Linked DNA regions of Homo sapiens: region 1 is linked to region 2. Evidence: fine-mapped expression QTL. A gene starts in region 2. The other region holds a variant in brackets. All regions are shown on one strand. Distances are between the middles of the regions.

The links. PIP is the estimated chance that this variant, and not a neighbour inherited with it, causes the effect.
Region 1: its variant is fine-mapped to the expression of GPSM2 in subcutaneous fat (GTEx, PIP 0.91).

The regions. Positions count from the first base shown.
Region 1 is chr1:108,832,414-108,837,790 of GRCh38, forward strand. It overlaps AKNAD1 (AKNA domain containing 1), which reads right to left. Exons shown (of 16, transcript NM_152763.5): 7 at 5,137-5,293; 8 at 2,516-2,643; 9 at 2,034-2,115. It overlaps LOC105378891 (a long non-coding RNA gene), which reads left to right. Exons shown (of 5, transcript XR_947687.3): 3 at 1,777-1,923; 4 at 3,836-4,055; 5 at 4,548-4,590. Among named protein-coding and RNA genes, the nearest start is that of AKNAD1, 22 kb to the right of the region's middle. The variant C/T (reference allele first, on the strand shown) is at 2,401.
Region 2 is chr1:108,874,720-108,880,096 of GRCh38, forward strand. It overlaps GPSM2 (G protein signaling modulator 2), which reads left to right and starts at 2,266. Exons shown (of 15, transcript NM_013296.5): 1 at 2,266-2,509. RefSeq lists an enhancer at 1,922-2,021 and silencers at 2,102-2,501, 2,592-2,661.

The sequences.
Region 1 (5,377 bases), 42 kb before region 2:
AGAGTTTCACCATGTTGGTCAGGCTGGTCTCGAACTCCTGACCTCAAGTGATCCACCCGCCTTGGCCTACCAAAGTGCTGGGATTACAGGCGCGAGCCACTGCACCCGGCCAGTATGCTTGTGTTCTTAACCACAGTTCTGCTCCTTGGGGAATTTGTCACAGCATTTGATATAATGAAGTTCTCAACAATGAACATTATTTGCCCTTAATATTTTCTCAGTTGTCTATCTACATTTTTTTTAATTGATGGTGGTTTCAGTTTTGTAAACAACTTAAAATATCAATATTGTCAAGGAGGAGGTGCGAGTGGCCAAGAAACATATGAAAATAGATTGAGTTTCAAAAATAGCAAGATTAAAATAATGAGATATCAGTTTTCACTTATGCATTTGGCAAAAGTTGGAAAAAGAAAAAAATGTCTGGGGTAGGCTCAAACTGGGGACACCAACATTCCCACGCACTGCCCTCAGCCTATAAACCCCCATGGACTTCCTAAAGGCCAGATTATCAGAATTTTCAGCATGTACCATTTGAACCATTAACTGCAATCCTAGGGTTTTATTCTAAGGAAATGATCAACTACAAATGTTTGCATGTCAAATGATGTTACCTGAAGCAGTGTTTATGATATCAAAGAACTGGAAAAAACTAAATCTCCATCAATAAGAGATTGTCTAAATGTGTCAGAGTACATTAGTATAATGAAATATAGTACAGTCATCAAAAATGAAGCGATAGTTTATTCTAAGTGATGTGGAGAGCTGCTCAAAATATAACATTAAATGAAAAGCATAAAACAATATATATAGTAAAATCCTATTTTGGCCAAAATGTATATATAGGAGAAAAAAAGACTGGAAGGATATACACTAAAATATTAGCAATGGGCCAGGCGCAGTGGCTCATGCCTGTAATCCCAGCACTTTGGGAGGCTGAGGTGGGTGGATCACCTGAGGTCGGGAGTTCTAGACCAGTGTGGGCAACGTGGTGAAACCTCCTCTCTACTAAAAATACAAAAATTAGCTGCACGTGGTGGCACATGCCTGTAATCCCAGCTACTCAGGAGGCTGAGGCAGGAGAATCACTTGAACCCAGGAGGCAGAGGTTGCAGTGAGCTGGGATCGCACCATTGCACTCCAGCCTGGACAACAAAGCGAGACTGTCTCAAAAAAAAAAAATTAGATTGATTTTCCTCTCAGTGGAAGTTTCTTCTTTATACTTTTCTTTATTTTCTCATTTCTCTTGTAATAAGCATGTATCAGTTTTATAATTTAAAAAAAAAGGGTTTTTTCATCCATTTTTCCCATGGTTTTTTTTTTTTAATTTTTATATTTTATCATTGCTGAGCTTACAGGGTTACTCCTCCACTGACATTTAAGGCAGATTTACATTAGCAGAATGCAGGGAGGTGCCCCTCCACCTGAGTTGGAGACCCGGGCATCACCTATCATTTACCCTGAACAAATATCACCTTTCTAAACTACTCTTCCTCTGCAAAAAGTCTTTGCAAACTGTAAAGCTCTGAGCCAACATAATTATTATATCATTGTTTACTGCTTATTATAATATTATAATATAATATCATTTAAGACCCCGGGGTTGGTAATCCCAGCATTTCCAATTCATTCGAAATGAAATAATCTCTAGACCCTCAGAATTTAAAATGTGGTCCGCAGACCAGAACCAGCAGCTTTGGCATCACCTGGGGCTTGTTAGCAATGCAGAATTGCAGGCTCGCCCCAAACTTACTGATTCAGAGCCTGCATTTTAACAAGATCTGCAGGTGATTCATAGGCTCGGAGAAGTTGGAGAAGCTCCGGTCTAGGTACGCCTGCCGAGATTCTCAGGAGTGCAGAAAGTGGGAAACCGTCAGCAGTACCAGCCATCACCAGCACTGACACCCAGGATGCCATTAGGAAGAGGTAAGTGATCTTGATTATGCCAATTTCACAGTCACATTCAGCAACACTGGTTTTAGTTAAAGAGCCAACAATGAGAAGAACCCAGCCAGGCCCCGGCTGCAGGACATTACCCCAGAGTTAGAAGACAGCCTCATGGCCACTTGGTCTGGCTTGTTCTGGGCAGCTGCATCTCCATAATGACCGTTTAGGTAACTAATTTAAAAAAAAAAAAAGCAGTTTGAATGTTAGAATCAGTTCTTGAGCTACCTGGGAGCTCCACTATTTGGAATCACTTGGCATCACCCCTGGGATGGTGGGAGCGAGCAACCTAAGGCAGAGAGTGCTATGGGCCTCATGCGGCCACTTGACCTTCACCTCTCCCCGCGTCCCCCAGCCCCAGCTGTCCCGTCCCTCAGATCTCTGCCCAGAGGGTTGCAGAGGCTGGCCAGGCCCTGCTGGTGGGGCAGGTGAGGAGCCAGGCTACCAGGCTTTGTAACT[C/T]GTGGTCCAAGACTGCTTTTCCTGTGGGAGCCTCATGGGCCTTCCTGGAGGCTGCATGAGGAAGGGGCCTCTTTCTGTGTCCTGTGTCTGCTGGGGCTCCAGGGCTAGGACTCACGTCTGCGGGGCCAGCTCACAGAGCTCCTCGTTGGGGGCCTCCTGCGGCCCTCCTTGGGGTGTCCCTGTTACCTCACTCCCACCTGAGCCTCGAGGCCCAGAAGGGTGGCCGGGGTGCTCCTTGGGAATCTGGGGGAGCCACACAGAAAGACTTGAATTAGAGCCACAGTCCCACTGGAGGTGACTCAAAATCAGTTCAGCATCCCTACAGCACCCCTAAGGCACCATAACATCCTGCCTGGCGTCCCCCCACCCCTGTCTCCCCCAGCTCTTTACCTAGCTGTCTTCTCATCCTCCAAGACTCAGTCCAAATCTCACCTTCTCTGAAAAACCTTCTCCCTTAGTAATTCAAACCTTCTGCATTTAGTTACTTTTGGTCATATCCCATTACTTAATAGTCATGATAGCTAACACCCAGGAGTAATGTACTCACTGTGAGCCAGGCCCTATTTTCAGTACGTTACTTATATTAACTCATTTAAACATCATAACAGCCCTGTGAGGCAAATATTATTATCTGCATTTTACAGAAGAGAGAACTGAGGCACAGAGAGGTTGCATAACTTTCCTAAGATCACAAAACTAATAAGTGACAGAGCCAGTATGTGAACCCAGGTAGTCTGGCTTCAGAGTCACGCAGAATGTATTATTATTTTCTGCACTGTGCTTTTTAACATTTCATAATTATATGTTAATTTAATTTTTTTTTTTTTTTGAGATGGAGTCTTGCCCTGTCACCCAGACTGGAGTGCAATGGCGCAATCTCGGCTCACTGCAACCTCTGCCTCCCGGGTTCAAGCGATTCTCCTGCCTCAGCCTCCCAAGTAGCTGGGATTACAGGCGCCCGCCACCACGCCCGGCTAATTTTTTGTATCTTTAGTAGAAACGGGGTTTCACCATGTTGGCCAGGCTGGTCTCGAACTCCTGACCTCGTGATCCGCCTGCCTCAGCCTCCCAAAGTGCTGGAATTACAGGCGTGAGCCACCGCACCTGGCTTAATTTGTTAAGTATATGTCTCTCTTACAGAAATGTAAGCATCTTGAGGGCAGGTGATTTGTTTGTTGTTCATGTTTTATCCCCAATACCTAGAAAAGTGCTAGCCTATAGCAATACATACTGCTGAGTGAATGAAGGATGCCAGCACTAGACTCTTTCCAGAACCACTTACCACAAAGTTATTTAGAGAGTTCTCATCATTTCACAACAGTAGCTGTAAACTTGGGACCAAGTAAAGAAGAGCAGATCCAGACCCCAGGGAGCTGCCAGGTAGAGGGCAGGGCCAACCCTGAGGTGGCCTCACAAAGACTTGTGACTCCTGCAGGTCCAAGACTAGCAGGGCAGCCGCTGTGAGCCTGGAAACTGCTTGGGTGCCTTGAGATGGGCTGTTACATCCACGGTGGCTCAGGGCTTCCTCTATGAAGCATCGACTCTCCTGGGCTTTCAGCTGGACATTCAGGATTCAAAGATGAGTGCAGAGTCACAGAGACAAACGAGACCCAGTGCTGCGGGGACACAGAGGCCGGGGCCAAGAATTCCTCCAGGTGCGGGGGATTGGGGGGCTTGGGGGTGAGGAGGGTGGCTGACTAGGGATGCATAAATGACCTGACGCTAGAGCTGGGCCTTGAATGAGTGAGATTTTGCCAGGCAAGTAAGTGCTTTGAGGAGGCAAACACTTCTTCGGAAGGGCTAACCTTGACATAATCTTTGTCACTTTGTCCTTCGCTTTGACAAAATCCTCATTCAAGTTTGAATATCAGCCCCAGGCTGTGTCTTCAAATACTGTATGAAACTAAAGAGTCAATTTAAGGTATTTATTTAAATGATTCTGTTTCTCAGAATTTTGATTTTAGTCTGAATGTTCTGATAGTTGAGGCTACAAAGGCAAAAAGTATAGAAAGACAGTGGTGGTTAATTTGAATTCCCAATCTTGCATAAGTAGAAATCCAAAAGAATTTAACTTGAGAGAAGGAAAATGCAGAAGTGGATTCATGGGAAATAATTATTTCACTGAGTGTGCTATTCTTTATTTTCAGGTGGCTCATGCCTGTAATCCCAACACTTTGGAAGGCCAAGCGGGCGGATCACTTGAGGTCAGGAGTTTGAGACCAGCCTGGCCAACATGGTGAAACCCCATCTCTACCAAAAATATAAAAAATTAGCCAGGCAGTGGTGGCATGCACCTGTAATCTCAGCTGCTTGGGAGGCTGAGGGAGGAGAATCACTTGAGCCCGGGAGACAAAGGTTGCAGTGAGCTGAGATCGTGCTACCACACTCCAGCCTGGTGAGTACAAAACTATGAAGAAAAAAAATTATTTCTTCCAGGCATGATCTACAAAAATTTTCTTATTAATTTGGAAGAAATAGCTCTTCGGTGGTTTAATGGATTTAAACAGCATTGTTACATCCTAAACTATAAAGATGTTTCAAAAATTAACACTTGAAATAGCTTCTAATCTTTAAAAGCTGGTTCCATTTAAAATAATATAATTCATGGGACTTTGGAAAGTTAAATTTTCATGAGATATTAAAAATGGAATTCAGTGAATCCATGAATTAGGAGTCTATAAATGCAAAAACACCATTTTTCCTGGCACAAAATTAGACTGTACATTGCTGTATTACCTCATTTGAGAGTGAAGAGAAGGTGGAGGCCAAGTCATCCAGGGTAACTGGAGAACTCACAGGAAGGGAAGGAGCTGAAGTATATTTGCTTTCATCCATTTTCTCTTTAACATCTTCAAGCAGCATCTCCAATTTGAAGATTTCACCTTCCACTTTTCTAAGTAAACATAAACACACAGGCATCTTCTGGGCTATGTGGTTGGCATTCTAATTAATAATGACAGTTCTTGAATACAGCATT
Region 2 (5,377 bases):
GAAGATTTGCAGGGGGTAAATAATTCTGGACATGTTGAATGTAATGTTGTACTTCTGGCTGGGTGAGGGGGCTCATGCCTATAATCTCAGCACTTTGGGAGGCCAAGGCAGGAGGATCCTTTGAGCCCAGGAGTTCAAGACCAGCCTGGGCAACATAGTGAGACCTTTTCTCTACTGAAAAAATAAAAATAGCCAGACATAGTGTCAAGCTCCTGTGGTCCCAGCTACTGGGGTGTAGGGGAGGGGTGAGATCGGAGGATCACTTGGCCCTGGGAGGTTGAGGCTGCTGTGCAGTGATCTCCAGCCTGGGTGACAGAGGGAGGTCCTGTCTCTCTCTCTATATATATAAAATTTCCTTTGTGGCTTTCACAGTATCCATACTTTAAAAGAATTTATAATTAAGAAGGAATTAATACCTACCTCTGAAACAGTACAGCCAACCAATTCCATTGTTATTTACAAGAACCTGATATTAAAGATGGTTGTAACGATAATAGGTATCAAGTATGGAGCAGTTTCTATGTGTCAGGCCCTATGTCAACCACTTAACAACCTTACCTCACAGAAGCATCATAGCAACCCTTATTAGAAGAGGCTTTATTATGTTTTACAGGTGGGGAAACTAAGACTAAAGAAGATAACTCATTCAAGGTCAATCAGCAAGTAAGTAGCAGAATTGGAACTCAAACCCAGGTCTAGTTTGATGATAAAGCTGTTCCTTTAAGCAATTTGCCATAACATGCACCTAATGGGAAATGTTGCTTGGATCACTGGTTATGGCCATCATTCACGGAGATACTGAACCCGGAGTTTTCTTTAACATAGCCTTTACCCTGTAGAAACATTTAAACTTCATTTCAGAAGAGAAATATCTATTTGAAAAATAATCTAAGTAAATTCATCAGATGCTTTACCCCAGAGAGACTCTGGTCTTGGTATTTTGGTTTTTGTTGTTGTTTGAGACGGAGTCTCGCTCTGTCGCCGAGGCTGGAGTGCAGTGGCGCGATCTCGGCTCACTGCAACCTCCGCCTCCTGGGTTCAAGCAATTCTCCTGCCTCAGCCTCCCGAATAGCTGGGATTGCAGGCGCCCACCACCAGGCACGGCTAATTTTTGTATTTTTAGTAGAGACGGGGTTTCACCATTTTGACCAGGCTGGTCTCCAACTCAGGTGATCCCCCCGCCTCGGCCTCCCAAAGTTGCTGGTATTACAGATGTGAACCACCGCGCCCGGCCGGTATTTTGTGAAGAACAAACTATAAGGTGACTACTATTTTGGGGTCACCTTGACATGGAGGAGAGGTGAATGGAAATAAAACTTATTCTTCCCAGTGTCTTTAGAATGTAGGCGCTGAAACTGAGTGAAACTGAGTAAAACTGCCACCCAATTTTCCTGGGAACCAGCGATTCTGTAGTCAACAGAAGTTTGCTTTTCCAACAGCTGGAAACGCCAGGGTTGGGCACAGCCTCAAGAACTGAGGCTGCCTTGTTCAGACTTTCACACGGTCCCTCTGTTCCTTCCACAGAGGCCTCTTTTTCTTCTATATCCCGCATCTGCCGCTTGGGACACTCATTCTGTAGCGCAGCACCAAGTCTTCCAAAAAGGCGGCGCTGGTTTTGCGCTCCTTTTTTAAAGGGATCTAGGCCAGCCTCTATCTGAACTCTGTACGATGTTTTTTGTTTGTTTGTTTTGTTTTGTTTTTGAGATGGAATTTCGCTCTTGTTGCCCAGGCTGGAGTGCAATGGTGCGATCTCCACTCACGGCAACCTCCGCCTCCCGGATTCAAGCGATTCTCCTGCCTCAGCCTCCTGAGTAGCTGGGATTAAAGGCATGCGCCACCACTCCCAGCTAATTTTGTATTTTTAGTAGAGACGGGGTTTCTCCATGTTGGTCAGGCTGGTCTCGAACTCCCGACCTCAGGTGATCCGCCCGCCTCGGCCTCCCAAAGTGCTGGGATTATAGCCGTCCGTCACAGCGCCCGGCCAACTCTAGACAATATTTATTGCTCTACTTTTTAGTGTCTGAAGAAGAAAGAAGAGGACAGGAAAGAAACTTCAGTCTGAGGGTTGAGGACACGTCCCGGAGCAGAGGAGGACCAAGCTCCCAAGCCCCCTGTCACCTTGACACGCAGACGGTTCCCCAGGACTGCGAAGAGGGGGGCAACCAGCGCCCCGCCCCGCCCCGCTGCGCCGCCCGCCATTGGCCGGTCCGAAAGACGCGGGGCGTTGTCGGTTTGAATGAGAGCGCCTGGAGCCGGGGCGCAGGCGCAGAGGAGGGCGGTGTTGAGACCGGCGGAGCGGCGGGACCCCTAGGTGGCGGAGGGACGCTCCGGGAAAGCGAGGGGCGCTACGAGCTCTGGCCCACGTGACCTGCCGGGGGCGGGAGCAGGGGGCGCGCCGGCCTCCTGCGGTGCCCCTGCCTTGGGGAGGGGCCGTGACCACCCGTCTGTCGCCCGAGGCGGCCGCCGCTGCACCTTCACCGCGTACCCGGGACCCGCCCGCCCGCGGGAGGTGAGCGCTTCCGCGACGCGGGTTCTGAGGCGTTTGAGGGGCTCTCGGAGGGAGGTGACAGGGAGGGGTGCGTGTGCGTGCGTGTGGGGCTTCTGTGTCCAGAGGTCTGGGGGTGACGTCCTTTGTTTTGGGCAGGAGGCGGGCTGGGGGCTTGCGGGACCTGTGGGCGCTGCGGGGACGCGGCGTCGATGCTCAAGAAACCAGAAACTCGGCTTGAGGAGTTGCTGCTTTTTTGTCGGAAGGTCTTCAAATGAGAGTAAAGCGTTAAGAGCCTCACTCCTGAGTCTTTTTTTTTTTTTAAGATAAAAACTATACTAGAGTCCAGCGACTTCTTACCACTCTGAATGTGAGTAACAAATTGTGAATCAAAGCCCGAATCCCCGTGGAATTCATTCCGAGGCTGATTGCAATCACTTGGAGTCGGGCGCGTCCTACCTAAACCAGGCAGTTTATGGCAAATACCTGCCTTGACCGTGCTTAAATTAGTGAACTTTTGGGCACCAACTGGTCGATTTACCATAGAAATTGGTAGTTGCTGCAAAAAGAGTAAGTAAACATAAAACGTTAAGAAAACTCTTTCCTGAAATCTATAGAATACCTTCGAATAAAAAAAAATCTGTAATTTCCTTGTTTTAATAGTAACCAGTTAGAGCATTTGAACTAGTAGCATTTGAACTCTGTTAAAGAAAACGAGTAAGGATGGAAATTTTATTGGCCTTAATGCATAATTTAACCACACCGTAGAATTAAACGAAGTAGGTTCTTGGCTTTCCTTTCTATCGGGTTTGCATTGGAGCGTTCGTGGGGTGTGTTGGAAGTCAGCAGGACCAACAGAGCTGAGTTTTCAAGCTGCCACTTTAGAAGGGTGTACCGAAGATTTCTGGCCTGATAATAGCCGGTGTGATTGCTTCTGATAAATACCACTTTTGATTGGGTTCTCACTATTCAGGAGCAGCTTTAGTTGATTGTTTAGAAGTGAATAAACAACATTAAAAAGGGTAGATCACTGTTGGTTGACATGGTGTGTGTAAGGAGAGGGGGGCCTCAGGGATTAGGGGTGGTCTCACACCTACTTCTCTTTACAACTACCACGGAGTCGTTTTCGCAAGCTATTTCCCAGGCTATTACTTATAATTTAAGTATTGGAGCGGTTTCAAAGTAAAAAGTTGTGTGATGTTGTTGTAGAGGCATGTCTCCAAAATCCTCTCTGGCCAGATAAGCAGTTTAATTGTATTTTCTTACATTCTTAAATCAGATATTCGGTGTTACAAACATATTTTAATATAGATCTGAGACTTGCTTACTAGACTAATTAAAACAGTGATAAGATATAGTAGTTTTAAAAATGACCTTTTCATAAACATAAAATATTTCTAAGATCTATCTTTAGAAATTTGTAATTAGTTCTCTGGAATTTTAAAATGGAAAATCTGACATAGATTTAGGTTATTCTAAATTTATTTGAATATATATTAAATATGTCTATTTTATAATAACAGTTACTGTTATTACTACAGCACTATGTTGAGTACTTTTGTTATGTATCAGAGCCAGGTGCTGGGTCAGGTGCTTTATAAATCATGTCTGTAATTATCACAGCACATTTTAGGTAAGTGTCATTATGCCCACACCAACTGAGAGTTTAGCGTAAGATCATATAACTAATAAGTCACTGTGCCGAGATTCAAATCATGGCCTGATCCCAAAGCACATGCTGTATTGCTTCTGTGTGTCTGTTTAAATCTCTGCTGTGTCTCTGGATTCCATTTGTAGGGACAAGTTCTACTTTAAAGATGCCTTTAGGTGCTGTGTTTTGTTGTAGCTTCGCAGAAATATTTCAATCTTTCTGTTGGAACTATCTTGCTTCATTATTTTATAAATCATCTTATAAATCACATTATATTTTCAATATCTTCTTAATCATCTTTATACAAAACATAAGTGAAGAGTAAGACTTTTCTGAGTTTCTTACATAAATATGAATAGAATCTTTACTGTGGAGAAGAAATGTATTACAGTCCGGTTTTCTCACTATTGTAGGATTCTTTGGCCTCGTCATAATTCCTGTCTTCTTCCCAGGGAAGAAATTAAAGTTTGTTGGGCCTCTCTTATGTGCAAAGCAATGTCGTTGGTGTTGTGAGATGACAAGAAAATGCTTCCTATTCAGTAGTTGTTTCTGGAGTTTTTGTAGTATTTTTCTTTTCTCCCCATTCCTGCCTTATATGTTGCTGCTGGTTTATCTTCCTAGCAGAGATCCAACTTGGCTATTCCTTTGTGGGGAAAAAATACCAGCAAGGTTCCCCATTGTGTAAATAAAAGGCTGAGGCCGGGTACGGTGGCTCACGCCTGTAATCCCAGCACTTTGGGAGGCCGAGGTGGGCGGATCACGAGGTCAGGAGTTCAACACCAGCCTGACCAACGTGGTGAAACCCCGTCTGTACTAAAAATACAATAGTTAGCCCAGTGTGGTGGCACACGCCTGTAATCCAAGCTACTCAGGAGGCTGAGGCAGGGAGGCGGAGGTTGCAGTGAGCCGAGATCGCGCCACTGCACTCCAGCCCGGGTGACAGATCAAGACTCCATCTCAAAAAAAAAGGGGGGGCTGAATATGAATATATGCTTCTGCCACATGTTCAGAGTCCCTCACAGTTTGTTACTGTTCTACCTTCTCAGCCTTCTCTTTCACTACTCTGAATACTGTGTGCTTATCCTGGAACACATTCTGTGCATTTCTACCCTCCCTTTTTCTTGAGCCATTCTTTTCCCTTGACTGGAATGCCTTTCCTTCATTTGGCTAATAAGATCTACCCATCCTTCAAGGTGCTGTACAAAATTCCTTGCTTCCAAAAAGTTTTCCCTGGTCCTTTT